Linked DNA regions of Homo sapiens: all the other regions are linked to region 2. Evidence: fine-mapped expression QTL. A gene starts in region 2. Each other region holds a variant in brackets. All regions are shown on one strand. Distances are from middle to middle.

Region 1 (4,151 bases), 150 kb before region 2:
TGACCTAGGACTATGGGGACATGACTGGGGCAGAGCACTGGCTCATGAGATTTTTTTGGAACTGAACGTTTTAACAGACTTTGTTACTATTTAGGTATGGTGAGACCAACAGATCGAGAGACAATCGCCATTAAAAAGATAGTTTGTTACTCACAGTTCCCAAGGGGAGGAGGGCACAGCACCATGAGGGCCACATGGGGATGAACCAGGGACCATCAGGAGGCAGAGGGAGCAGAGAAACTACAGGCAAGAGCCTCGGCTGTGGTTTCTGTGGGAAGGAACAGGAAAGACGGGGTAAGCTACTTAGCATCGGATGGCTTGAATTATTTCAGTGGGCTCTGGGAAGAGGGTCTGTCCCTAGTTGTCTAGCACCTGGGCCAGGGGGGATTAGGGCAGATGGGTAATGACTCAGAGTATGAGAGCCCAGCAAAGAAGGTGGTTGGGGTGTGGACTCTAGGTTGGTTGGTTTGTATTTGAAAATTGTGCCCTTGGGCGGGTTGTTTACTATCCCTACGAATTGGCTAACCCTGAAAGGGGCAGTCCCTCCAGGGGACACAAGGCTCCGGATGTCAAAGCATCAGAATAGAGAAAATAAAAGCCACGGTTCACACACTGAAGCACAGGGCACTACTGGGGTCCTATGGGAGAGGAAGGGGAGACTCCAGAAAGGCACGTGCACGTGAATGACCCCAGCTCCATAGAAGCACCTGAGTGGGTCTCTCCGCCTGACTCCTGTCCTCCTCCCCTCCCTTTTCACCCCCATCTCCAATGAGAGGACTCCATGAACTCGCATTTCCAGCTATCAGCCCTCCCTCCCCCATTGTCTGTCTCTTGCTACGCCTGCTCACCTCTTCCTATCTTCTCCACAAACACCTGATTGTCAAGTCTCCAGGCTCTTCTGGTTGAGCCCTAGAAAACCTTGCTTTTCCATCCTCGCTTCCCCAGAACGCAGCAACTCTGTCATACTTAAACCCTTTCCACCAGCTTATACAAACAGGCCTTTTACAGAATACCCACTGGCAGCAAAGACATATACAAAGCCACAATGGGGTATATTCATCAGTCAAATATGAACTTCTGGGTGTGGGCTTACATCTCAATGGGCTTTGTAAAAATGAGTGATCTGTGCCCTCCTAAAAGGGCAGGGCCAGGGCAGATTTCTGAAGCTGACCAGGCTCAGCTTTCGGGAAAATTGCCTAAATGCTTTCTGAGTATAGCTGAGCATCACTGAGTCATCTCTGTGCCACTCCAGCATGGTCAGAAGTGCCGGGGGACACCGAGAGGGCAGTCGCAGCTGCCCAGAGGGGCCATTTGTACTCCTCCCTTCATGTGCTGGCAAGCTGTGTGTGAACCACTTACTAAGTCACCTGGGGGAAGAACAGTGATTTAGGGTATGGGTGACAAGCAGGTTCCATAGATTGTGAGCCGGTAGGAGGTCTGTCTACTAGAAGCCAGTTATACATGGGTGACTAAAGTGCAGTCAAGCTCCCCTCCCACTGACACTTCACAAGCCAACACAAAGCCCTACGTCTAAAGCCATCAGCTTTCCCAACTGAAGGTACCATTCCAAAGTTCTGTTTTAGGATTGGGGAAGTTTCTGGGAAGTTCCTTCAGCAAGAAGCTTTAATTCTAGTAAGTCAAAGTATACAGAAATGAGATAAACATGAGTGTAATTACATAATTGTTTTCTCATTGAGAAACCTTCCCATGTGAGATATTTCAAACCACTTTGGACAAGGCAAAATTTCCTTCTATGATTTTTTTTAAAGACCTGATACAAAAAGACCTATTAGAGAAATGGTACAAGAATTGGCCTTTGAAATTCTGTTGTTTTTAATAGTTTTATTTCAGCATATATACACAATATTTTATTTTAAATTTTATAATAAAACATGCATTTAAACACATCTGCAGTAAAAAAGCCAAAACTGTCAGCAGTTATTACACAATTCAGACTTTTAGAATTGATTTTTTTCTCCTGTTTCTCTCAGAGTATTTGTAAAATAT[G/A]AAGTCCAAGTGCCTGAGCTTTTCTGAACATTACCACATAATTTCTCCTTCTCCTGAACACATTAATTTCCCCTCTGTGCCCTCTGCCCACGCCATTTAACCTGCCGGGAAAGACCCCTCCCCTGCCTGCGTCAACCTCCGACTCAACCCCTTGGTCAAGCCCTACATCTCTGACCCTCGCAGCCTGAAGTAACGGCTATCCCCTTCCAATGCAGAGCAATTACTGCTGATGGGATGGCCTTGGCAATTAGCCCAGGATCCCCATGAAATAGCTCTTCCATTGCTCTCTATTAAAATGTCACTCAAACACTTTACTGGCGTTTGGTTTTCCCCTGAGTTACATCTTATCTCCCCAACTGGACTGCACTATTACTTTACTATTTTTTGTGTGTCCCTCGGAAAGCCCAGCAGAGTCACCCTAGGAGGTGACGTCATTACCGTGAGGTCTTGTTTTTGTCCTTTTACCCTTTACCATTTTCTGAGTCCACGTACAGTTTCATTAAATGCTAGATGTTTGACTTCTTTCTGGTAACCTGAAACTCTCAGTTCTGTTGGTTTTGGAACCTGGAAGACATGTCAACTGTGCTGCCCACAACTTTCTTTAAAATGGGCAGATTAGAAGATTTGAGTAAACAAGTTCTTTCCTATTAATGACTTCTGAAGACATACAGACTTGTATGTTATGTCTTCATCAGTTTTACCTCTCAAATAGGTGGGACTTATATTTCCACATCCGGTCGTCATCAAGCTTTCTCGTGCAGCCGGGGAAAGCGAAACACTTCCATAGCTGTGATCCAGTGACAGCAAGTGGGATGCTGTTGAGCTGCTGAGGCTGAATTACCCCTATCCATTTCATATCCAGAAACATTAGAGGGCTCAGCTAACTGCGCTAATTTGAAATATACCAGGGAGACCCAATCTGTGAAAAGGTGAGAAAGATTTTTATTTTATTGCCAGAGTTGAAACCAGACCTGAGTGGTACTTAAAATTTCAGTTACATGAGGAGACGGGTTTCTTTACACTTGATGAGGGCTCTTACAGCTCTGAGTTGGAATAGGTTCAGCAAAGGAGATCCATGAGCCATATGTTGGTGGCCTCTACTCATTATGAAAAATGCATGCTTCTGCAGCTTAAAAGCAAACAAACAAGCTTAAATCCCCACTCTCCTGGTTTTCATATGTGGGGACAGTGCCGCAGTGAGTGTCCTGAGAACAAACACTACAAGCCTCTCTCAACCAGCAAGCAGTGCCATATACAATTGCAAGAGTTGCCTGTAAGGATGTTGAGAATTTCTCTAGGTTTCCTGTTCCCAACCTGGTGAGTCCTTCATCCTAGAAGAACCAAGGACAGCCTCTTTGCTCTGTTTGGAGAAGCCTCAAGAAGTCTCAGTGGCCAGCAGTCAAGTTTCAAATGCCACCATTGCAGATGGGGGCCTTGGGGTTAGAGCACCACTCCTGGACACAAACACACATTTATGTCCAACCCTGGACCAGGAGAAATCGCAGAACCAGCATCCCAGGCCTGACCCTCACAAGGCCTGGCCTGGAGCCTGCCTCGGACAGAGGACCCAAGCCACTCTGAATCTCTCCACAGCCATGTCTCTTAGTCAGCCCGGCTGCTATAATGAAATGCCAGACGCTGGGTGATTTAAACAACAGATACTTGTTTTTGCATCATTTAGAGGCCATAAGTCTGAGATAAAAGTGCCAGCAGATTCAGTTCTTCATGAGGGCACTCCTCCTGGCTTACAGATGGATGGCCACCTTCCTGACATGTCCCAATATGGTCTAGAGAAAGAGAAAGGAAGAAAGAACAAGAGTACATGCTTTGATCTCTCTAACTCTTCTTATAAGTGCTCTAATCAATCCCTTCTTAGGGCCTTCCCCTCCTGACCTCATCTAAACCTAAAGACTCCACTTCCAAAGGCCATCATATCGGGGGTTAGGGCTTCAATATATGAATTTTGGAGGGAAACATTCAGTCCATAACAGCATGTGAACTAAGTAACATGATGAGAATGGGTCAGTTCACAGTGGACCATAAAGCTGAAGGGTCGTGAGGCAGAATCGGGCCTGGAAAAGCCAAGTCCAGAACAAGCTGCACTTGAGCCGGGGACAGGAGACAGGGAGCAGAACTGAAATCAA
Region 2 (4,000 bases):
AATACAGGCTAGTTATTTTATATTTTATTTTCCTCTACTTGGGTTTGTCTGATGCTTCCTCATGACTACATAGCTCTAAGTGCACTGCTGGTGCAAGGATGTATTTGTTATATGTACCTTCTTTGCCCCCCACTGGTTTTTAGACTTGACCTGCTCAAACCTATAATCTATAAAGCATTATATTTCTATTAAAATACGTACATGTACATTCCATAAATTTTTTTAAAAATTTGCATAAAATACATCATCCTACCATTTCAAAAGCAATTGTTGCCTCTGTACTTTATAATGGTTTCAAAGACAAGTGAAATTTACTTAATGGATTCAGTTTATCTAAAATTATTTAATCAATTATTTTATCATTGAGTATGGAAATAATTCCTCAGAGAACTGCTGTAAAGCGTTAAAGTTAATGATTTCTTCTCGCCAGTAAAACTAGAATCTTCCCAATTTTGTAAATCCTAATTTTACTTTTGCTTCTCTTAATGGTATCACCAATGGAGAATAATTAAATTCCGATATTGTAAATCATAAGTACTTTCAGCTTTTGAAGTGGCAAAGTATTTGAATTGGTGCTATAGCCCAGACTTCAGGTATTTTCAAAGGATGAATGAGGAAAAAGGAAGTGGGGAGAAAGAACTTTTAACTGTGAGGAAGGCTCTACTATTTAAAAGATGGTTTAAAAAAAATTCTCACTGTAGCTACAGTGCTCACACTGGAAATAAAAGTATAAAAATGGTCCTTTAGGATTTTTCTCTGGAGTAAGAATTGTTTCAAGGAAGAAACTGCCAGGGATATGGACATTTTGGACAGGGGCAGAAAAATGCCCTAGTGTTTTGGACACCATGGAAGCGCTAGAATTTTTAAATAAATATTTCACATTGTGAGAAACGTCTGAGTATTAAACACGCTTTTTTTTTCCCTAGGGGGACACTAAACAAATATTTATTTAAGGAGGTAGAAACTTGAAGGCCCCCCCTCTTCCCGCAAAGCTAGTCTTTGGCTCTGCTTCTAGGACTTCTAGGAACGTGCAATTAAAATAAAATCGAAACAACGAAACCCTCGCAGCATTTAGATTTCTTTTTTCCCCCTCAACTGCTCAAGAAAAGTCAGAAGCCGACACTTTTTCCAAGTCTCGAAGTTGCCAGTTGTGAGGCTCCCAAGACGTCTCCCGCACACCCTAGGGACGATTCTGCACGGGTCCCTCCCGTTAGCCGGCGGTGCGATCCGGCTCCAAGGGGGTGTGTCCCGGACCGCAGCGACCCGGCGCCAGCCTCCGCCGCGGGCCCACCTGCTCCTCTCGGCCGCCGCAGCGCCCCGGGGTCCGGCCGGGCCCCCGGACCCCACCCGCGCGGCGCCGCCGGCCGCCCGGCAAGTCCCGCCACCCACTTCCGGACCCGGCCAGCCCCTCCGCTAGGTGCAGCTGGGACGCGAGCTCAGTTCCTTTCTTCCCTCAGCCCAAACTGCTAGCGGCCCCCGTGGCGGGAGGTGGAACCCGCAACCTACCCCCAAGGATGGGGGGCCCAGGCGGAGAAAGGGGGTCCCAGCCCTCCCCGGGCTGCCCGCACCGGCACCCCCCTCGCACGGCCCCAGCGGCGGCCCGCGTCCTCCCTCCAGCCCTAGCAAGACAGGCGTAGAGACTGCGAGTGTCGGGGGAGGGGTACAGGTCGGAGGAAGAGCATCCCCGGGCCGCAGCCGCAGCCGCCGCCGCCGCCGCCGCCTGCTGCTCCCCCGCCGTTCGGCTAGGGGAGGCCTCGTCACAGCCGCCGCCTCAGCCGCGGCTGCAGATCTCGCGGTGTTTGCCGGCCGCCGCGCCGCCATATTGTGTGACAGTATTTTGATTTGGACTGGGCTGGCGGAGCCGCGGCGAGAGCGAGCGAGAGCTGGGGGGGTGGGGGGAGGGCAGGCGAGCGCGAGGGGGGTGGGGGCAGAGGGAGGTGGGGAGGCCGAGCGAGCCGGAGCTGAGGATTGGGGAGCGGCGACGCCGCCCAGCCGTCGTTTTTGATCTGCTGCAGCCGCCGGCGGGGCGACCCAGCCCGACCCCCTCCCCTCCCCCTCAGCCAGGAGCGGTGGCGGCGGCGGCGGCCGGAGGGAGTTGGCGGCGGCGGGCGAGCGGAGGGGGCTGAGCGGGGAGGGAGGGAGGGCTGAGGTGTCCCCCCTGCCGGGTGGAACCGGAGGCGGCGGCGGCGCTGGCGGCGGCCGTGGTGGCGGAGGCGACGGTGGAGACGGCTGCCCTAGTGGGAGAGGCGGCGGCGGCGGCGGCCGAGGAGGAGGAGGGGGAAGCGGCGGCGGCAAAGGGTAAGCGGACAGCGCTGCCGGGCCTCGGCGGGATCCCCAACCTGGCTCTCCCCTCATCGCCCCGCACCCCCCTCCGTCTGGAAGGGGCTCTGCCGCCTCGCGAGGCCCGTGCGGGGCGTTCGCTTCTAACTTGCACTCTTCCTCCCTCCGCCTCTTTCCTTCCCCCAGTGGCGTGGCGGAGAGGGAGGCCCCCCGAGTCCCCCAGTCCGGTGGGGGTGGGGAGCATCGGGCCGGGCCTGGGCTCCGGGGCGTCCGTGCGGGGGGGGAGGGGGAGCTTCATTGGAATCGAGCGCCTAGGAGAGCCCCGGGTGGGGGAGGGCGCAAGGGGCTCGGGAGGGCCCCTCCCTGCGTCGGCGCCCCTGACCCGCCCCCAGGCATGTGTGAGGTGGGGGCGGGGGAGGAAAAATCTCCTTTTGGGGAGCCGAGGTCTAGTTAAAGATGACTCAGGGGCGGGGGTTTTGGGGACAGACACGGGGCAGTTATGTGGGGGTCGGGCGGGAGGGAGAACATCGTTCCTTTGCGGATCTTGGTTTTCTGCAGCCGTCTTTGAAGTGGGGGGCAAGCCCTACTATGAATATGTGGCCCCTTAAATTTCACTGGATGTTTCTGGTTTTCGGTCCCATCAACCTCAAACCCTACGATTGTGGTTGAGTCAGGGAGGCTGCAAGGGTCTCTTGGCGGTGCTGAACAGGTGACAGGTGGATCTTTCTGTTGCTGATGCTGTGAGATGTTCAGGCACAGTCGTACACCAAAGTGTCAGAGACCGTGTGAGTTTGTATTTATGTGTTTGGCCATGTTTCATTCCATATATAGTATATTTGAGATGTTAGGTTTCCATTCTTCAAGTCAGCTTAATTGTTGTGGATAAATTCTTCAAATGTTTCTGATAAGAGGGTTTTCCAGGAGAGCGGAGGGAATTTGCAGCCTCACAGGGGTTTCTCCGTAGTTCACGAAATTTAGGCCCCCAGTGCAGGCTGTTGAGTACCCTTATTCATTGGAAAGTTCTTGAACGCTAAGATCGTATTCAGAGCAACTGTACGGCAATATAATTTTGCATCCATTTTGTCTGTTTTAGGTAAGTTTGTAAAGTGTCTAATTTTGGGGTCAGATTGATTCACATTTTAGAAAAGGAATTTCGTTTCCGCTTTAGCATACTCTAAAGGTTATGATGATCATTATGCAATTCCAGATTTGGCCGGGAATTTTAGTGGGCATGGAATAGAATATTTGCTTTCAGTTTTTTCACTTCTGCTTACTACACTGTTCATACAGTAGCAGAGTATTGACACCTTTTAAAAAATATCTTTACATTCTTTGTAACAATGAAATCACGATTTTAAACTTTTGACGGTTTGAAACTGTAAATTTTGAAACCATGGCAGTTTGTAATAAAGGAAGACTTGCTTTTCTTTTGTTGTAGGCTTTGGCTGAGCATTTTAATTAGAAACAATGGGAAGAATTGTTAGATACATGAGCTATAGGCTAAATTAGGGTACAGTTAGTTTAAGGATTCTGCTGCTTTAAAAAAACATGTATGGAACGAATATGATGTACTATCAATGTGTTAACAGGAAATAGAACAAAAATTCCAGTGATTCAGAACTTCTGTTTGGGTTTTTCCCCCATAGGTCTAATCAGTTTCTAATAGAGGGTGCTTAAGTTTTAAATCTTTCAAGAATCAAACTGAAAGTTGAATACGTCA
Region 3 (4,000 bases), 71 kb before region 2:
TATGAGTAATAATAAGAGCAAGCATACAGGAAGATACAGGCTGGGCGCAGTGGCTCACGCCTGTAATCCCAAGCACTTTGGGAGGCCGAGGCACGTGGGTCACTTGAGGTAAGGAGTCAGGGGTGCTGGTGGAACACTTGAGGCCAGGAATTCGAGACCAGCCTGGCCAACATGGTGAAACCCCATCTCTACTAAAAATACAAAAACTAGCCAGGCGTGGGGGTGCATGCCTGTAATCATAGCTACTCAGGAGGCTGAGGCAGGAGAATCGCTTGAACCAGGGAGGTGGAGGTTGTAGTGAGCAAAGATAGCGCCACTGCATTCCAGCCTGGGGACTGCAGGAGACTTCATCTCAAAAAAAAAAAAACAACAAGATATGGCAGATGCTGCTGCCATCTGTACACAGTTTTAGATGTATTAACTCATTTAATTCTCTCAAGACCTCAAGTTTAGATATCAGTGCTATCCCCATTTCATGATGCACAGAGAGATCAAGTAACTTGCCCAAGTCAAGCAGCTACCTTGGGGCTGAGCTGGAGTTTAAACCCAGGCACTCAGTGACAGCATCCACACTCATAACCACGATGCTAAGAGTTTGCCAGACAGGTGAGAAGCAACATTTTTGGAAGAGGGTCAGGGCCATAGGTTTTGTGAAGTGACAGAGCATGACATTCAGATTCAGTAGGGCTTAAAGACCCAAGTTTTGGAAAGTAGAGGAGATCTGAACCTTAGCCGTAGCTTCTAGAGGTGGGCTAAGAGCAACCTGGGCACATGTAGTGGTGACCAGAGGACTTGCAGCCATCAAATCACTATGGTGTGCTGTTTATTTCTCCCAAAGACTCAGGAGGGGAGAGGTTTGATACTTTTTTCTCATATCAGATAACTTTAAAATGTAGTTTTATATTATAGAATAGGATGTAAAATTACCATGACATTTTTCCTTGTTTCTTCTTCCTTTTGATATATGATTTAAATTGTTTCTTTAATGTATTTATTTATACTAAATAAAACAACTCATGGTTATATAAATTATTTCTCTTCCTGAAATTCCTTCATTCTTTTTCACCGAGATAGTCCCTCTGTCCACGCTTATACAACTAGATATTGATGCATGTGGGCAAAATTAGGGTGTTTTGCTGTTTGTTTATACAGATATGGAAACAATGCACTCTTTATTCCATGGCTTGCTTTGCTCACTTAATAATACCTCATGGACAACCCCCTAGCATCATCTTACTGAGAATCGTACAGTAATCCATACCATCACTTTTGTACCATTCCCCTACAGATGGATGGTTTCCAGATTCTGCCTCTTCAAGCAAAGCTGAAACAAATACTTCTGTCTATACATTTCTCCCTCCTCTGCGTTTACACTTTAAAAATTATACAGTCGTTACTGGACTTTTTTTTTTTGACAGAGTCTTGCTGTCACCCAGGCTGGAGTGCAGTGGCACGATCTCTGCTCACTACAAGCTCCGCTCCGAGGTTCAAGCAATTCTCCTGCCTCAGCCTCTTAAGTAGCTGAGACTACAGGCGCCCACCACCACGCCCAGCTAATTTTTATATTTTTAGTGGAGACAGGGTTTCACCATGTTGGCCAGGATGGTCTCGATCTCTTGACCTCATGATCCACCCGCCTTGGCCTCCCAAAGTGCTGGGATTACAGGCATGAGCCACCACGCCCGGCCGGTTATTGGACTTTTTACCAAAGGCCCACTTCTACCTTCAAGGGAAATGGCTCCCTAGCATTTGCTCCTAAAAGCAAATGGTCTGTTCAGGCCTAAAATTTCAAATTGTGTTCAATAGGCTACTTTTTACAGGACTCTGTTTTCCCTAGAAGACTGCATGAAACAATTTCCAGAAAATGTAAACTCCAGTCTTCATGGATAATTTCCTCCACCTACCTAATTTGCACCATCGAAACAAAGCTTTTTCTAAAACCGCTAATCAGAAGGTCTTATGTTGTTTTCTATTCGACCATAGCCTTTTAAAATAACAGTTGAAATGTCAAAGAAATCCCAAGTTCACCGCAGGTGTTCCTGGACTGGGCTGTTAAGTCGTGACAGTCAACATGAGAGGGCCAAGGAAGGCGGGAACCTAGGGCTCAGGCGGAGGGGCCAGGTCAGATTCAGAAGAGCTGGGCGCTCTTTTTTGTATGAGCCTGGGTCTTGCTCTCTTGCCGGGCTGGAGCACAGTGGCACAATCACGGCTCACTGCAGCCTCGGACTCCTGAGCTCAAGCCCTCCTCCCAGCTCAGCCTCCTGAGTGGCTGGGACTACAGATGCACCACCACACTCGGCTAAGTTGCTCTTTTGATTTCCTCTCTGCAATATTGAAGCCGTTTTCATCTGAAATTGATTCTGTTTGTCAAGGAAGACTAAAACCAAACAGAAAGTGCCTGAGTTCTGCTTCCTCCAAGCCTCTTGCCACAGCAGTCCCTGTTCAGCAGTCAGGGCCCACTCTCAGTTCCTTA[T/C]CCCCAACCTTTTGCTGCTGCTCTGCCCTCACCACCCAGCCGCCTCCCTTGCAGTTTCAACAGCTCCTGCTCAGGTAAGCCCTCCCTCTTCCCGACAACCCCCACCCCTCTCCTCCAAGGCTATCCACTCCCAACCTCTACTGCCCCCTCGTAAGTGTGAGCTCCCTGAGGGTAGGAACGTCATCATCCCGTGTGGCTCCCACCACATCCCTGGTGCCCTGCACTGGGTCTGCTTTACAGAAACACACAGGTAAGCACACAAATGGCCTCAGGCACGTCACGGACACCTCCTGCCATGAACCAGACACTGTTCCAAGAGTTTCACACACGTCATTTTGTTTAATTCTTAAAACCACTCTCTGGGGTAGACACCAATCATGTCCCCTTTGTAGGTATGGAAGCTGAGATAAGGCTCCATACATGCAAGCATGGGGTCCTCTCGTCAGCCAAACACACTCCTTTAATCTGACTTAAAATGACTATAAGCGGCTTCTCCAGGCTCTTCAGCCGCTCCCACAACCCCCAGCGCATTTTGGGTTTTGGCCTCTCTGATGCAAGTCTTACTCATGCCTTCTGTGCTCCTTATTGACTTCTATCTTGATTGTATCCTTTTTGCATCAGTTTCATAACTGCCCCTATGGGGTTAGAACTCATTAGAGAGCTGCCAGTGCAGCCACTCTGTTGGAGGGGACAAGTGGAGGTGTCTGTCTGTTATTTTCAGTAAGCTCGAGCTGTAACGACACAGGGTGAGTCCCAGGGAGAAGTGCATCCAGTCATCCGGAGGCCGCCTCTTCCAAAACCCTGGGCCACGGAACCGGTAGTGTCCATCTTTCCCCTGAATTTTAAGAAATGAGCATCTTAATCCGCTGGGATACAGGGAGGAGAACATCACACACGAGGGCCTGTTGAGGGGTAGGGGCAGCGGGTGGGAGAACATTAGGACAAATACCTAATGCATGCAGGACTTAAAAGCTAGATGGTGGGTTGATAGGTGCAGCAAACCACTATGGCACATGTATACCTGTGTAACAAACCTGCATGTTCTGCACATGCATCCTAGAACTTAAAGTAAAATAAAATAAAAGACAGAAAGAAATAAACATTCTAAGGTCAGGCATGGTGGCACATGCCTGTAATCCCAGCACTTTGGGAGGCCGAGGTGAGTGGGTCACCTGAGGTCAGGAGTTCAAAACCAACCTAACCAACATGGCGAAACCCCGTCTCTACTAAAAATACAAAAATTAGCCGGGCGTGGTGGCAGGCGCCTGTAATCCCAACTACTTGGGAGGCTGAGGCAGGAGAATTGCTCGAACCTGGGAAGCAGAGGTTGCAGTGAGCTGAGATTGTGCCACTGTACTCCCGCTTGAGCGACAGAGCGAGACTATGTCAAAAAAAGAGAGAGACAGAGAGGGAAAGAAAAAGAAAGAAAGGAAGGAAGGAAGGAAGGAAGAAAAGAAGGAAGGAAGGAAAGAAAGAAAGAAAGAGAGAGAGAGAGAGAAAGAGAGAAAGAAAGAAAAGCATTCTACA
Region 4 (4,000 bases), 83 kb before region 2:
CCATCCTGAGGGATGCTGCTGTACTTCCCTCACAGCGACCTGTGTGGAAGTCGAAGCCCAAAAGGCAGGCACAGCTGACATCCTGGCCAGGAGTACCCACTCCCATGCCAGGGCATAGTACATAATAGCCCTGTTTCACCTGCCTAGTGTCCACCCCTCACACCAGGAGTGATATATCCTGCATGCAGACCCACCAGCCGGAAGATGGAGGTAGCCAGGCACTCATGGGTGGGGACAAATGATGACAGGAAATAACCAAGGAAGTCATGAATGCCATGGTAACTACCTGGCGGGGGGTGAGAAACAAGGGCTTTCCAGCACAAGTCACAACTTGGGCACTTAGCACAGTGACCAAGAATCTGTCATCCAGGGTCCGAGACAAACCTCCCTCCGCTCAGTGTGCCTCCTTGGCTTCTCCACTGAGACGCCTCTACTGTAGGCCAAGAAAGTTGATCCTGAAAGCTCACCGCAGAAAGCAGCAAACTAAACCTCCTTCCTGCCTGGGCCCAGAGCCACCCAGGGCCCAGCAACCAGTTCTTATCTCTTCATCTGATTTGTCACACGTAAGTGTCATGGTTGAGCCATTGGTTTGTCTCCTCCATTATATTATGAGCCTCTTAAAGGCCAGAAGTGGTTTTTTATCCCTGAATCACCAACATGTAACTGCCCCCTAACAAAGCACTAAGTAATTGTTTACCAAATGACTCATGGATCTGACATTCTTCAAATGAAAACCCCCTAGGAAGGTTTTCTCCAATAGATTAGTCCTGCTTTCCTTTACACTTCACAATATACTTGTTTATTAGATTGTAAATTTCTCAAGGCCAGAAACTCACCTTAATCTATTCAATTGGTGCAAAAGTGATTGTTGTTTTTGCAACTACTTTTAATGGCAAGAACTGCAATTACTTCTGCACCAACCTAATATATCCAATGCTTGATCCATAACGGGCTCTCCATAAACAATAATATAATTTTTTTACCACCATGAAGCCCTCCAACCCTCCCCAAATGCTGTTAGGTTGGACCTCTCAATCCTATCCTTGTGTAATTCGCTTATGAAATGTAAATGTGGCATTTTTACATTTATTCCTATGAAGTTCCAACAGTACTTCACTTCAGTTTATGATTTTTTTAACCTTTTAATAATAATAATCAGTCACATTTTTGTCATTTGTATTTTCAACCAAGTCTTTAAGAACTATATTGAACAAGACACCTATGACTCACAAACCGCTCCTAGTATGAAGTTTTCACATGGGAGGTTTTCAATAACATTTTTAAGATAAAAGAGAAACCTACTAAAAGCAGACTATCTGATAAAATCTTGGCTTCCCCTGCTGACATGTGCAGACTTGAAGACAGAAGAAGTAATAAAGGGAACTCTTGCTACTCGGATGTTTTAAATCAGAATGTTGAAACCATAACCCCCTAGAGGTCACCCCTTTCTTGAGAGGTGCCAGGAGGAAAGTAAGAGGCTGAAGAGGGGTTGGCTGAAGGGCACTGGGGCCAGCAGGAAGTCAACCACTGCCCACCCACACCCCAGCTTCACCCCGAGCTACTCACTGCCATCTTGTATGTATTAGGGTTTTGCGTAAGGTTTTGTTTGGGAGAAACTGGTGCCCACAAAAAAGAAAATGGAAAATCAACCTCCCCATTTCACAGTTGCCCACCTCCTGCCGCATGTACCTTGCAAATGACGCTGTCAGCCAGACATCCCAGGGAGCTGCTTATTCATTTTCTTGTGGACAAGATGGGAAAATAGAGTGCAGTTAGGTTGGGTTCTTAGCAGACAATACACTGTGCTGAGATGATTAATGAATTGATTTCAACCTGGAGGGAGTTCCCTGGGTTGTGTCATAGAACTGTGTGAGATTTTTTCAGTGATTTGAAGGAAACATCAAAGGCATGTGTGCCAGATAAGTAGAAGATAAAAAGATGAGACGACTAAGATTAGAGAGTGTGAAAAAAAAAAAAAAAAACACACTCTTTTTAAAAAATGGCATTGGCCTAAGAATAGACCAAAAACAAAGGCATACCATGTAACAAGAATAAACACTAAGTGCCACTTTTAGATTTTCAAAA[A/T]CAATTGCAAAAATACAAGATGAGGACATCTGACTTCAGCACTTTTTATTAGAAAGCCAGGAGGTTTATAATTAATAATAACTCCAGCTTTTTAAGTGTGCGCTCTGTGCCACTCAATCTGAGTTCAGAGTGGAGCATAAAAATAAAAGCTAAGGCAAGTTCTGTTTGCATTCATATAAATACAACATTCAAGGCAAGGAAACATCTGACCATAATCTGAACTGGCTGAAACACCAAGTGGGTTTACGGTTTCAATCCCGGATGACACACTGTAAGAGGGACCTTGAGAAACTGGGCCCTGTGCCAAGGAAAACAGAATTTTGAAGGCTCCATAAGCCACAATAGTGAAGAAGTGTTAAAGGAAATGGGGATATTCTGTTGAGGAAGAGCAATCTTGGGAGGAACGTGATAGATGTCTTTAAAAATTTGAAACATCCTATTAAAAGGGGATCCTATGTGTTTGGTGTAACAGCAGAAAGAGGAACTAGGATCAGGAGGGTGAAGTTTGAGGTAGCAGCCTTGTTTGGTCTTGAGCACCAAAAAATCATCTGACTAGCTTGAGCAAAAAGATACATTGGTTGGAAGAACATGAAGGAGTTCACCATTTCCTAGCTAGGCCGAGGAACCAGACTGGGGGTCCACAAGAAACAGAGGGCTCCAGAAAGCCTTGATATCAGGAACTTCTTGACCATCTTGCTTAGCACTGCCTCTACAATTAAAAGAATTCCAGCCATTGCCTTGGTGCTTGTGTCACCCTGCTCAAGATTCATGTCCTAGGAGCGTGAATTTCATTAGACATGCATAGGTCACACATCAGTCCCTTGACTGTCCCAGGGAAATGAGAAGAAGAGTCTGGCAGAAGGACCTTCAAGAGGTCCCTTTGACTTCCACAGGGGGAGGACACCTAGATTTATTTGTCAAACCCAGGCTGGCTCTAGTGGAAAGCAGTTTATTCCCCAAAAGAAAACTATGGTCCTCTTGGGAAGGGAGAATGGATTTAAGGCACCCAAAAAGTGAAAAATGACCATGACACAGAGCTCAAAATGCAGAAATACTTTCTAAAGATTAAAGTGGTCCAGGACATTGGAGACTACAAAGGGTGGGAGGGTGAGAGGGAGGTGAGGGTTGAAAAATTACCTATTGGGGACAGTGCTCACTATTTGGGAGATGGGCGCACTAAAATACCAGGCTTCACCACTACACAATATACGCATGCAAGAAATCTGCACTTGTGCCCCCTAAATATATAAAAATAAAATAAAATGGTCCAGGAATATAATGACCAATGAGGTCACCCTCATTTGAGGTATTCAAGCGTAAGTCACAGGATCAAACAATAGGAGGTATTGTTGGCTGAAGCTTCTATATCTCTAAATAAGTAGTTTTCAACTTGGGAACATGTCAGAATCATGGGAGGAGCTTTTTCAAATTATTTCTGCCTCGATTTCTTTCCTGTTCACAAAGATTCTAATGCCCTTTTACCATTCCTTATTCCCCATTGCCAAATGAGAACCCAATACAACACCACATCTGAGGTTTCTACTCACTCAGTGCTTTCTGTTGGTGAAATGGCCCAGAAAAAGAGATAGGAGGCTAATCAAGTGGGGAAGTTCTTTTTTATATAAAAATTTTTTGAGTAATAGGAATGTCTACCTTGTAGAGTTAGGCAGCATAAGACATATCTGTTAAAAAATGGAAAGGAACTTGGCTGAAGAAAATTAATAGTTGGAGTTATCTGGCAATGCTGCATATGTTGGCTTCCCTAGGCTACTGTTATTTTGTTTGGAAGGGGTCCAATTTTCCCCTTGCATAAAAGGAGACAAGAGCTGTTTGAAGCCATTAACAGCATCAATAGGAGGGACATTTGAATTAATAACCAGGAGACCAGTCAGCCAGAAGCAATTTTCAGCATAAT
Region 5 (4,151 bases), 97 kb after region 2:
GATGGACTTCGAAGTATTTTTTTGACACAAATTATCCTTCATCTGTATGTTTAAAGGGGTTTGGGGGTAGAGGAATTGGCAGTTCATGTAAACTAGACTTCTCAGGAAAATTTTTATATTAACAAATTGTCAGCCAAATGTCTCCTGTGACAACTAATACGTTAGACAAAGATGTGTGTTATATTGCAGGCGTTTGAGGGAAAAAAGTTGAAATTTTATTTTTCTTTTAAAATCTTGTTTAACCTGTGTCATCTTTGATCTAATATTAATTAACTTTATATTGGGGAAATTATGCAGAAAATCAGCTCCATGGGTAGTCCAAAACTAATTGTTAGCTTTAAACCTACTTAATCAAAGCAGCTATAAATAGCAAAACTAGCTGACGTGTCACCAGTTTTCTCTATCCCAATGTAATGTTGACAGGCAATTCTAGTGAGCAGGGATAGATTTAAGAGGTAAACAGTATAAGATAAAATATTCAGACTGGGCACAGTGGCTCACACCTGTAATCCCAGCACTTTGGGAGGCCAAGGTGGGTGGATCACTTGAGGCCAGGAGTTTGAGACCAGCCTGGCCAACATGGGGAAACCCCATCTACTAAAAATACAAAAATTAGCCGGGCGTGGCAGCACATGCCTGTAGTCCCAGATCCTCTGGAGGCTGAGCCATGAGAATCACTTGAATTCAGGAGGTATAGGTTGCAGTGAGCCAAGATCGCACCACTGCACTCCAGCCTGGGCAACAGAGCACGACTCTGTCTCAAAAAAATAAAATAAAATAAAATAAAATATTCAGCCCATGAGTAATGGAAGTAGGCCATATTGCCGTAGAAAATAATGTAGTGACACTAGAGACTACTCCAGATTTAATATCTATATGCTGGATATCGGCATAGCTTCCCATATAACATCACAAAGTACTTCTATTCCTGTATGGCAAATGAATATATTTTTGGCTTCAGCTTTTTTGGTGCTACAATTTTATATCCATTTTACTTGAAATGGCTCAGCTGCATTTTAATTTGTATTGCTTCCATCTGAAAATACAATTAGACAACTGAGAGAAAAGGCCTAAGAAAACAATTTTGTAGTGAGTTTTTGTATTTGTTATGACCTCTCAACTTTATTATTTATTTATTTATTTATTTATTTTTTGTGGTGTGTGTGTGTGTGACACAGAGTCTCACTCTATCACCCAGGCTGTAGTCCAGTGGAGCAATCTCGGCTCACTGCAACCTCCGCCTCCCAGGTTCAAGTGATTCTCCTGCCTCAGCCTCCCCAGTAGCTGAGTTTACAGGCACACGCCATCACGCCTGGCTAATTTTTTTTGTATTTTTAGTAGAGACGGTTTCGCCACGTTGGCCAGGCTGGCATTGAACTCCCAACCTCAAGTGATCGGCTCACAGCCTCCCAAAATGCTGTGATTTCAGATGTCTTCATTAGATTTACTCTGTAATCCTGGGACAGTTCCTTGTTTATATTGCCTCTCCTTGTCGAACGAAGGTGATTAGATTAATGCTAAACTCACCTCACAGGGGTGTTGTAAGGATTAATGTGAAACTATTATCTGAGCCAACCCCTTCTCTCTGACTAGGAACTGCATTGTCCTAAAAGTGGGCCTTGTTTTTACATAAATGGGTTGTGAAGTATTGTTCTCTCAACAGTATTAACAGGTAAGTTAGCTATTTATCTGAATTGGTCTAGGGACATCTCAATGGATCAGAATTTGATGTTTCATTCACTGAGATTGAATTTTTCCTCTTAATGTCAAAGGTTGGTAGCTTTGCAAAGATTATAAAACTTTGGAAGGCTGACCTGAAGATCAGGTATGTTTATATTTGTATTATATGTTCAGCTGTCTAAAGAGTGTACATTTTATGATGGAGTATAACAAATTATTTCTCCAGGAAAAACACTTGAAGAACTTACTCTAGTGTTTGCATGTCTGCATATTTGTTTTAAGCCTAAAATGGACCCAAAGCACACTTCTCTCTAGTGCCTCCCTCTTTACAGATTCCCTTCTTTACTCCGTTCTTCCTCTTCTGAGGGCAGCCTTCCCCTGACGTGATGTAGAACCAATACAGCTTACTGATCTTATTCTAGAAGTGTTTATTGATCCTCATAGCCGTGAACAAAGACTGCGGTATCTTCACCATGGAAATCCTTTCCAGTGGTTTTTGGTTTTGTTCTTTAGAGACAAGGTCTTGCTGTGTTACCTGGGCTGGCCTCTTCCTGAGTTCAAGTTATCCTCCCACCTTGGCCTTCCAAGTAGCTGGGACTACAGATGCATGCCACTGCACCTGGCTCCAGATATATATATGTATATATATA[TA/T]TTTTTTTTTTAATTTTCACCTTTGAACTCATCCATGGATTGTTGATAGGTTTCGTCCCTTTCACACTGTGACCTAATTGATTCCAAGTTCTTACTCTTTCCTTGCACACTGCAGCTAGATTACAGTATATTACAGAAATAACACTATGCCCACACAATCCTGTTCAGAAATCTTTATTATTTCCCCATTGTTCATTGAGCTTACTTGTAAGACTTGTTTGTTCCTTACCTGTCTCTTCAGGATCATTACTTTCCAACAGAGTCCTCTTACAACTAAATTGGTCTAATCACTTCCCTTAATAGGCTTTGCACATCCCCACCAGTGTACTTTCGTCCATGCCATTTGCTTTGTCTCTGTACTTAAATTTAACTTTCCAGTGATCCGATCAAGGGTCACCATCATGAGACCTTTCCAAACCGCACCTTTTCTCATAGCACTTGCTATATTTTCTGCCTACTTGGCATTCATTGCTACTTTGACCTCTCCACTTAGATACAGACATATATTGTTTTATTGTGTGTCACTTTATTGCACCTCACAGATGTGTTTTTTACAGATTAAAGGTTTGTGGTAACCCTGCATTGAGCAAATGTATTGGTACCATTTTTTTCAACAGCATGTACCTCTGTGTCTTTTGTATTACGTTTTGATGAGTCTCACAATATTTCAAACTCTCATTACTGTTACATTCATTATGATTTGTGATCTGTGATCTTTGATGTTGTAATTGTTTTGGGGCACCATGAAGCATATCCATCTAAGGCTTAAGTGACGTTTGAACCATGTCTGTGTGAGACTTAACCGATACTTGATAATATGTGGTTTTTTTGGTGTGTGTGTGTGAGATTTTGTTTGTTTTTGAGATGGAGTCTCACTCTGTTGCCAGGCTGGAGTGCAGTGGTGCAATCTCGGAGCACTGCAGCCTCCACCTCCTGGGTTCAAGTGACTCTCCTGCCTTGGCCTCCCAAGTAGCTGGGATTACAAGCGTGCACCACCACGCCCGGCTAAGTTTTTGGATTTTTAGTAGAGACAGGGTTTCACCGTGTTAGCCAGGATGGTCTCCATCTCCTGACCTCGTGATCCGCCCGCCTCGGCCTCCCAAAGTGCTGGGATTACAGGTGCGAGCCACCACGCCCGGCCAGTGTGTGTGTTCTGACTGTTCACCAACCAGTCATTCCCCTGTCTTTCTCCCTTTTCTTGGGCCTCCTATTCCCTGAGACACAACAATATTGAAATTAGGCCAATTGATAACCCTACAGTGGCTTCTAACCTTAAGTGAAAGAAAAAGTCACACATCGCTCATATTAAATCAAAAACCAGAAATGGTTAAGCTTAGTGAGGAAGGCATGTTGAAAGCCAAGATAGCCTGACAACTAGGCCTCTTACACCGAACAGCCATGTTGTGAATACAAAGGAAAAGTTCTCAAAGGAAATTAATAGTGCTACTTCAGTGAACACAAGTGATAAGAAAGTGAAGCAGCCTATTGCTGATATGAAGAGTTTTAATCACCTGGATAGAAAGTCAAACCAGCCACAACATTCCCGTAGGCCAAGGCTTAATCCAGAGGAAGGCTCTAACACTCTTCAATTCTATGAGACAAGTGAGGAAGCTGCAGAAGAAAAGTTTGACAATAACAGAAGTTGGTTCATGAGATTTACAGAAAGAAGCCATCTTCATAACATAAAAGTGGCAGGTGAAGCAGTAAGTGCCAATATAGAAGCTGCATCAAGTTATCCAGAAGATCAAACTAAGATAATGTGGCTACATGAAACAGATTTTCCATGTAGATGAAACAGCCTTCGAGTGGAAGAAGGTGTC
Region 6 (4,000 bases), 33 kb after region 2:
TAATCCCAGCTTAGTCAGGAGGCTAAGGCAGGAGAATTGCTTCAATCCGGGAGGCGGAGGTTGCAGTGAGCCGAGATCGCACCGTTGAACTCCAGCCTGGGCAACAAGAGCAAAACTCCATCTCAAAAAATTTAAAAAAAAAATCTTAAAGATAATTTTATTCATGTTAAATAAATTAAGAAATATGTAAATACTACAATGAATATTGTACTTTTTCCTCAATGAGACCTAAAGTTTGCTTATGGAAGGGAGCACAGGAAGAATTGCAGCTTGTGAGTTATTGTAAAGTAGTCAAGGCTGGGCGCCATGTCTCACGCCTGTAACCCCAGTGCTTTGGGAGACTGAGGCGGGTTGATCACAAGGCCAGGAGATTGAGATGATCCTGGCTAACACAGTGAAACCCCGTCTCTACTAAAAATACAAAAACTTAGCCAGGCACGGTGGCACGCGCCTGTAATCCTAGCTACTTGGGAGGCTGAGGCAGGAGAATTGCTTGAACCCAGGAGGCGGAGGTTGCAATGAGCCGAGATCACTCCACTGCACTCCAGCCTGGGCAACAGAGTGACACTCCGTCTCAAAAAAAAAAAAAAAAAAGGTAGTCAAGAAAGAGTTTTTTGAAATCAGTAATGTGACTGGGTGTGATTAATGACATGCAGATCTGTTAAGCTGAGATAGCTGGTAAGTGTTTCAGGTGTGTTCCTGTTTACTTTTTGTATATTCATATGCTGCTTGTTTTAGCTCAATACAGCTTTCTGTGTTCACCTAGTGTTTCTTACAAATGAAATTACAGCAAAATTGACTTAATGTTCAAATTGTTCTCTCATATCAATTGTGATGGAACATATTTACATTTTCAAAACAGATATAGCAGCACTGACATATCTGAGGTTAAGGGAAACGCTTGAGTTTGGGGAGATAGATAACCACTTTTTAGAGTAGTCTTTAAAAGCTGTATGTATTCTGATGTTTATTTAGAGAGTTATGGCAACAAATATTTACTGAGCATCCACTTGACATACACTAAGTAGTTAGGATACACCAGTGAAAAATAGTCTCTCTGCTTGGGAACTAACATACATGCATGCATTCATTCATTCATTCATTCAGAGATGGAGTCTCACTCTGTCGCCGAGGCAAGAGTGCAGTGGCGCAATCTCAGCTCACTGCAACCTCTGCCTCCTGGGTTCAAGCGATTCTTTTGCCTCAGCCTCCCGAGTAGCTGGGATTACAGGCGCCTGCCACCACGCCTGGCTAATTTTTGTATTTTTAGTAGAGACAGGGTTTCACCATGTTGGCTAGGCTGGTCTCAAACCCGTGACCTCAGGTGACCCACCCACCTCAGCCTCCCAAAGTGCTAGGATTACAGACGTAAGCCACTGCGCCCGGCTGGAATTAATATTTCTCACGTGAAGAATTTTCTTTGTGACCAGGGCTTGTTTTTAAGAGGTAAATAGGATTGACTGGGAGAAGAGGAAGTCTAACAAGGAGACGACTGGGCAACAAGGCATTTTTCAGATCTCTTAAATTATACTTTTATGAGATAACTTCCTAGAATTCTGTCCAATTCAGGATTTTATGATTTACAGAAAAAATTATTACCGCTAATGGCTACTTTGGAAACTGGAATTTGCTTTTAGCGTATGTTGAAATGGAAAAATCTTCTCTTACATTCTTGTACACAAGCTAAGGAAGAATCCTAGGGCGGTTGAGAAGTGAACGTTATGTATTTCTTCCTACTACTGTTTGATATTCGGCATGAACCATATTTTATGTCTTTTTTTTTTTTTTTTTTTTTTTTAAGAGCTCAGTCACCCAGGCTGGAGTGCAGTGGCACAATCATAGCTCACTACATCCTTGAACTCCTGGGCTCAATGGATCCTCCTTCTTTAGCCTCCTGAGTAGCTGGGACTACAGGCATGTGCCACCATGCCCAGCTTACTTTGTTAACATAATTAAATTTGTTCCAGCAAAACTCATAATTATGTAAGAACGGTGCAAAGATAAAATGATGTATATATATAGTTTGACATATATTAAAACCTTATTAGCATTAGCGTATCTCAAGGTCTTCTCAGATAAAGACCACTATACCTTGAAACCTTCATTCATCTTCTCAGCTTCTCCTGTAACTACCCCCATCCTGAGTACC[T/A]TCTTCATAATCCCCTTCTTTCCTCTTTGTCCCTCCTTTCTTCCTCCTGCAAGACAGGTGACACGATCCCCAGAATCTGCCTTACTTCTTTTATACTTTAAGTTCCTATGCTTCAATACTTTCCCACTTCCTCCTCAGCCCAGAGAGATCCCTTTAAACACCTATTATAACACAGTTTATGCCACTTTTCTAGCACTTTGCACAACCTAGTACTGTTGAGTTTGTCATGTAGCTTTGTCAGATTTCCCCAACTGCAAGTTTTTTGTCCCGTATGCATTGAAAAAGAAGGCCTTAAAGGCTCAATCCACTCCTACAATATTCTGCAACCAGGGTAATATGCAGCCCTGTAAGGTTTTGTTCCTTTGCACTTCGTGGAAGTTCATGATATTTAAAATAAATAATTACTACTACTACCAGTTTGTACTTTTTGCTGTAGGCAGGACAGATATAATGCAATTGGCTTTAATTATGTTGTCACTAATCCTTGAAGCTCTTTGAGTTGTTTTCTCCATTTTACGAAGAATGAAATGATAGTATTGATATTTTATTTACATGTGTACTTACTATGTGCTCTTTTTATTATCTTACTTGGATTACTCATTTAATTCTCCTAACACTCCTATGAAGTAGCTACTCTATCATCACCATTTTATAGATGAGGAAACTGAGGCACAGAAAAATTAAATGATTTGCCCAAGAAGTTACTGCAAGTAAATAGCATATTAAACTTCATAAACGAACCCATGGAATCCTAGAATTTATACTTAGCCAGCTATCACTGTGTATCAAATACTGTTTTATATACCTTATATCATAATTGTCTCATCTAGTTAGATAAGACAGTGTGCACTTATGGAACTGAGGTTGAAATATTTAGCAACATTAGGTTATCTCTGTTTTAAACTATTAACATGTTCTTTCACCAGAAAATTTTAGAAGCGTGCATGGCTAAGGTAGAATACTGGTTCTTTTAGTTCTACTCTTTTCTTCTCTTCAGGAAAGTTTATGCCTGTCTCAGAGTAACATTTTATTTATTCATTGGTTCCTTTTCTTTCTTAAGATTTTAATAGTAAAGGCCAATACTTTGTCAAGTTTAAATTATGTAAATTGAGTAGTTTATGTGAGATACATTACTAGTTATTCCTTTTATTTTTAAAAGTTAGATCTCTGGGAATTTAGCTTTGCTCCACCATTTACTTTGTATGGCACCTTCTTGATAGTAAAAGATTTTTCAGAAATTTACCTGCCCAAAAACAGCTTTTATTTTATAATAAGCTTCATTTTTAGCTGACCTATGGTGATCCATATGTGTTTATTGTACATCTACATTTTCCTACACTCTTAAATATATAGTAGCTGCAGAATCTGTTTGTGTATACTTAATAGAGGTAATTTTTTCTTCCCCTAGTTATTTCTTTCCCATTGAATCAAGTTACATACAAGTTTCTAACCATTCCTGTTACAGGCTTGTTGGTGATTGACTTCATTTTAATAATCTTTTTATTTCATTGCCTTTCACCCAGTTTTTTAAACTCATGAAATTCCACACCCCTTTCCATCTCTATTTTCCTTCCTTAAATCAATACTTTACTATAAGCACCTCTTATATGTGATCCTTTGACCATAGTCATCTTGGTTTTTGATTAGTCCCTTCCCTGCCTTTCATTTACTGTGTTATCAACTAGCGGTCTTGTAGGAACTGGAGTAAACTTTACTTGAAGAAACATTCAGATAAGCAGTTGTCTTGAGAGGGCTCATCACAGTGGATTCAAAGATGAATCAGTGAACATACTTGGGCTTTATACTTAGGGACTTTGATTCAGTAGGTCCAGGATGAAGCCCAGTGATTTT
Region 7 (4,151 bases), 130 kb before region 2:
GCTATTCCTATCAAGGAGTATAATATATTGTATCTGAAGATACTGGTAACCACTGAATTACATCTAAATGCTTGTAGGTTTTTAACCATAAGATGTCAATAGCCTTATTTTTGTTCAATGCAGTGAAGGCCCTGTTTATAGAAATCAAATTCATATCATAACAAAAAAACTTAATCACAAAGTGAATTCAAAACCCTGACAATGTTTAGTTTAACATATACTTTAAAAATAAAAATATAAAAGCTCCACTGGGAGAATCTAGAACTATCCTTTGGTCATAAACAACTAGAAAACTGGACAAAATATAGGAAATGAGAATTTTCAGAAATTGTGCTACAAGCAGTGCAGGACTGTTCTTCCTGAAAAATGGAAAATAAGTGAAGTGAGCCCCACCACTGACAAGGCTTTCTGCCTGGAGGAACTTTCTGGACTTTAGTGTAAGATGCTGGAATGGAAACAGAGCCCTGGAATCTTGCTGAGTTGAGGAGACAAAGATGCAAGGTTAGGGAGTCCAAGGCAGCTCTGTGGGGGAATAGCTGCAAGGAGGGAGTCACACAGAGAAAGAGTTCCAGAAACCTACTCGGGAGTCCTGTGCAGTCTTTAGCTGAATGCCAGTCTGCGCATGTGTGAGGTGATAACTCATAAGGCCAGGCAAAAACAACTTCTGCAAAAAGAACAATCACCAGAGAACCGTACGCTGACAATTCCCAGAGTTCACACAGACTTGGCAATAGTTCCGTTTCTCATGAGGCAAAGTAGAAAGCCCTCACTGAATACGCAAGGCATTTAGTAGATATTCCAGGAGGGCCAGGCCTTAGAAATAGGGCTGTCTCAGAGTAAAGGCTAGGTTAGCCCCATCCCAAAAGAGTTTAAAAATAAAACACAAAGGGGCCGGGCGGGGTGGCTCATGTCTGTAATCCCAACACTTTGGGAGGCCGAGGCAGGTGGATCACCTGAGGTCATGAGTTTGAGATGAGCCTGACCAACATGGTGAAACCCCGTCTCTACTGAAAATACAAAAATTAGCCGGGCGTGGTGGTACGCCCATAATCCCAGCTACTCAGGAGGCTGAGGCAGGAGAATCACTTGAATCCAGGAGGCAGAAGTTGCAGTGAGCCGAGATTGCACCACTGCGCTCCAGCCTGGGTGACAGAGTGAGACTCCATCTCAAAAAAAAATAAAAAATAAAATAAAGCACAAAGAGATTAAGCCAATCTGCAAGTAACTTAGCTGCCTGACATAAAAAGCCTAACACTCTTTAAAAGAATGTGAAAAAAATCCAACCTTTAACAATGTAAAAGTTGTAATGTCTGGTATTTGGTCAAAAATTACCAGGCATGTAAAGAAGGAAAATATAACCCATAACCAGGAAAAACAATTAATTCATAGAAAGAAACTCAGAAATGGCAGAAAATGGCATTAGCAGTCAAGGATTTTAAAATGACTAATACAAATATTATCATTATGATCATGGTGTAAGAAAAATGTGAACATGACAGTGTAAGAAACAAAAGATATAAAAAAGACACGAATGGAAATTCTAGAGATGAAAAATATTCTATTTGAACAGAAAAAATATACTTGTTGGGATAAAAAGCATACAATACAGAAAAAAGGTTTATTAAACTTGACCATAGCAATAGAAACTATGCAAAATGAAGAACAGAGAGAAAATATTTTTTTAAATGAAACAGAATGATAGTGGCCTGTGGGTCAATATACTTGATCTATATACATGTGATAAGGGTCCCAGAAAAGGAGGGATAGATATAGAAAAAAAAATTGAAAAAATAAGGTTAAAATTTCTCCAAATTTAGTGAAAAGCGTAAACCACAGATACAAGAAGCTCAAAGGATCACAAGAAACATAAAGAAAACTACACAAACACCGTTATAATCAAATTGATCAAAACCAGTGGTAAAGAGAGTACCTTACAAGTAGCTGGAGAAAAAAAATACACACTATGTAGAGAAACAAGAATTAGAATGACCACAGACTCCTTGTTAGTAACAAAGTTACAAGAGAGTAGAACATCTTCAAAGTACACAAAGAAAAAAAAAAGCTATAATTCTAGAATTCTAAATTTAGAGAAAATACCTTTCAAAATGAGGGCATGGCCAGGTGCGGTGGCTCATGCCTGTAATGCCAGCACTTTGAGAGGCCAAGACAAGCAGATAGCTTGAGCCAGGAGTTCAAGACCAGCCTGGACAACATGGCAAAACCCCATCTCTACAAAAAAATACAAAAGCTAGTGGGGTGTGGTGGTGCATACCGTAGTCCCAGCTACTCAGGAGGCT[G/C]AGGTGGAAGGATCATTTGTGCCCAGGAGGCAGAGGTTGCAGTGAGCCAAGATTGTGCTACTGCACTTCAGACTGGGTGACAGAGCCAGATCCTGTCTCAAAAATAATAAAAATAATGATAATAACAAATAAGGGCAGAATAAAGATTTTTTTAGACAAAAAAAAAAAAACAAAACCTTGAAAGTTCTTCACCAATCAATGTTTCCCCCCCTTTCCACTTGTTTTTTTTATTTCAATAGGTTTTTGGGGAATAGGTGGTGTTTGGTTACATGGATAAGTTCTTTGGTGGTGACTTCTGAGACTTTGGTGTACCCATCACCCAAGCAGTGTACACTGTACCCAGTGTGTAGTATTTTATCCTTCACCCCTCCCCGTCCTTACTGCCAAGATCCCAAAGTCCATTGTACAATTCTTATGCCTTTGTGTTCTCATAGCTTAGCTCCCACTCATAAGTGAGAACATACGACGTTTGGTTTTCTATTCCTGATTACTTCACTTAGCATATGGTCTCCAATTCCATCTAGGTTGTGGCAAATGCCATTATTTCATTCCTTTTCATGGCTGAATAGTATTTTATGGTGTATATATAGCACATTTTCCTTATCCACTGGTTGATTGACAGGCATTTGGGCTGGTTCCATATTTTTGCAATTGAAAATTGTGCTGCTATAAATGTGTGTGTGCAAGTGTCTTTTTCATATCATGACTTGTTTTCCTCTGGGTAGAGATTGTTGGATCAAATAGTAGATCTACTTTTAGTCCTGTAAGGAATCTCCACACTGTTTTCCATAGTGGTTGTACTAGTTTACATTCCCTCCAACAGTGTAAAAGTGTTCCCTTTTCACCCCATCCATGCCAACATCTATTATTTTTTTATTTGTAAATTATGGCCATTCTTGCAAGAGTAATGTGGTATCTCATTGTGGTTTCGATTTACATTTCCCTGATAACTGAGCATTTTTTCATGTGTTTGTTGGCCATCTGTATATCTTCTTTTGAGCACTGTCTATTCATGTCCTTAGCCCACTTTTTGATGAGATTGTTTCTTTTCTTCTTGCTGATTTGTTTGAGTTCCTTATAGATTCGGGATATTAGTCCTTTGTCAGATGCATAGTTCATGAAGATTTTCTCACACTTTGTGGGTTGTCTGTTTACTCCTCCGATTATTTATTTTGCTATGTAGATGCTTTTTAGTTTAATTAAGTCCCAAGTATTTATCTTTGTTTTGGTTGCTTTTGCTTTTTGGTTCTTGGTCACAACGCCTTTGCCAAAGCCAGTATCTACAAGGGTTTTTCTAATGTTATCTTCTAGAATTTTAATGGTTTCAGGTCTTAGATTTAAGTCTTTGATCCCTCTTTAGTTGATTTTCAGATAAGGTGAGAGATGAGAATCCAGTTTCATTCTCCTACATGTCACTTGCCAATTATCCCAGCACCATTTGTTGAATAGGGTGCCCTTTCCCCACTTTATGTTTTTGCTTGCTTTGTCAAAGATCAGTTGGCTGTAAGTATTTGGCTTTATTTCTGGGTTCTCTGTTCTGTTCCATTGGTCTATGTACCTATTTTTATGACATTACCATGCTGTTTTGGTGGCTATTGCCTTGTAGTATAGTTTGAAGTCAGGTAATGTGATGCCCCCAGATTTATTCTTTTTGCTTGGTCTTGAATTGGCTATGTGGGCTCATTTTTGGTCCCATATGGGTGGGAGTTCAGTCAGGCTGGTGGGAAAAATTTTAAAGATAGTTATAAGTAATAGATACAAACCTTCCTGGAAGGCCGGGGTTGTTGCATAAGCTTCAGTAACAGATCTGGCTGAAGGCAGCCTAATCCTTATCTTAAGTAAATAGCTTAAAGT

Direction of the effects. Alleles are on the strand shown, and positions count from the first base shown. SD is a standard deviation of normalised expression in the study named. Not every link is listed here.
In carriers of allele T in region 5, the expression in monocytes after R848 of the gene that starts at base 1,995 in region 2 tends to be higher than with TA alone (moderate effect, 0.57 SD a copy in Quach 2016).

Evidence for each region. PIP is the estimated chance that this variant, and not a neighbour inherited with it, causes the effect.
Region 1: its variant is fine-mapped to the expression of TAB2 in liver (GTEx, PIP above 0.99).
Region 3: its variant is fine-mapped to the expression of TAB2 in monocytes (TOPMed, PIP above 0.99).
Region 4: its variant is fine-mapped to the expression of TAB2 in whole blood (INTERVAL, PIP above 0.99).
Region 5: its variant is fine-mapped to the expression of TAB2 in monocytes after R848 (Quach 2016, PIP 0.95). The same link has a PIP of 0.9 or more in monocytes and monocytes after Pam3CSK4.
Region 6: its variant is fine-mapped to the expression of TAB2 in whole blood (TOPMed, PIP 0.97).
Region 7: its variant is fine-mapped to the expression of TAB2 in whole blood (TOPMed, PIP 0.93).

What each region holds. Positions count from the first base shown.
Region 1 is chr6:149,168,771-149,172,921 of GRCh38, forward strand. No RefSeq gene overlaps it. Among named protein-coding and RNA genes, the nearest start is that of TAB2-AS1, 87 kb to the right of the region's middle. The variant G/A (reference allele first, on the strand shown) is at 2,008.
Region 2 is chr6:149,315,718-149,319,717 of GRCh38, forward strand. It overlaps TAB2 (TGF-beta activated kinase 1 (MAP3K7) binding protein 2), which reads left to right and starts at 1,995. Exons shown (of 7, transcript NM_001292034.3): 1 at 1,995-2,298. RefSeq lists silencers at 1,138-1,207, 1,258-1,797, 1,888-2,787 and enhancers at 2,878-3,057, 3,218-3,327.
Region 3 is chr6:149,244,529-149,248,528 of GRCh38, forward strand. All of the region lies in intron 1 of TAB2-AS1 (TAB2 antisense RNA 1), which reads right to left. It also overlaps a transcript of TAB2 not described here. Among named protein-coding and RNA genes, the nearest start is that of TAB2-AS1, 11 kb to the right of the region's middle. RefSeq lists an enhancer at 2,509-2,558. The variant T/C (reference allele first, on the strand shown) is at 2,474.
Region 4 is chr6:149,232,900-149,236,899 of GRCh38, forward strand. It overlaps a transcript of TAB2 not described here. Among named protein-coding and RNA genes, the nearest start is that of TAB2-AS1, 23 kb to the right of the region's middle. The variant A/T (reference allele first, on the strand shown) is at 2,086.
Region 5 is chr6:149,412,225-149,416,375 of GRCh38, forward strand. No RefSeq gene overlaps it. Among named protein-coding and RNA genes, the nearest start is that of SUMO4, 14 kb to the left of the region's middle. The variant TA/T (reference allele first, on the strand shown) is at 2,331.
Region 6 is chr6:149,348,844-149,352,843 of GRCh38, forward strand. All of the region lies in intron 1 of TAB2 (TGF-beta activated kinase 1 (MAP3K7) binding protein 2), which reads left to right. Among named protein-coding and RNA genes, the nearest start is that of TAB2, 33 kb to the left of the region's middle. The variant T/A (reference allele first, on the strand shown) is at 2,150.
Region 7 is chr6:149,181,803-149,185,953 of GRCh38, forward strand. No RefSeq gene overlaps it. Among named protein-coding and RNA genes, the nearest start is that of TAB2-AS1, 74 kb to the right of the region's middle. The variant G/C (reference allele first, on the strand shown) is at 2,298.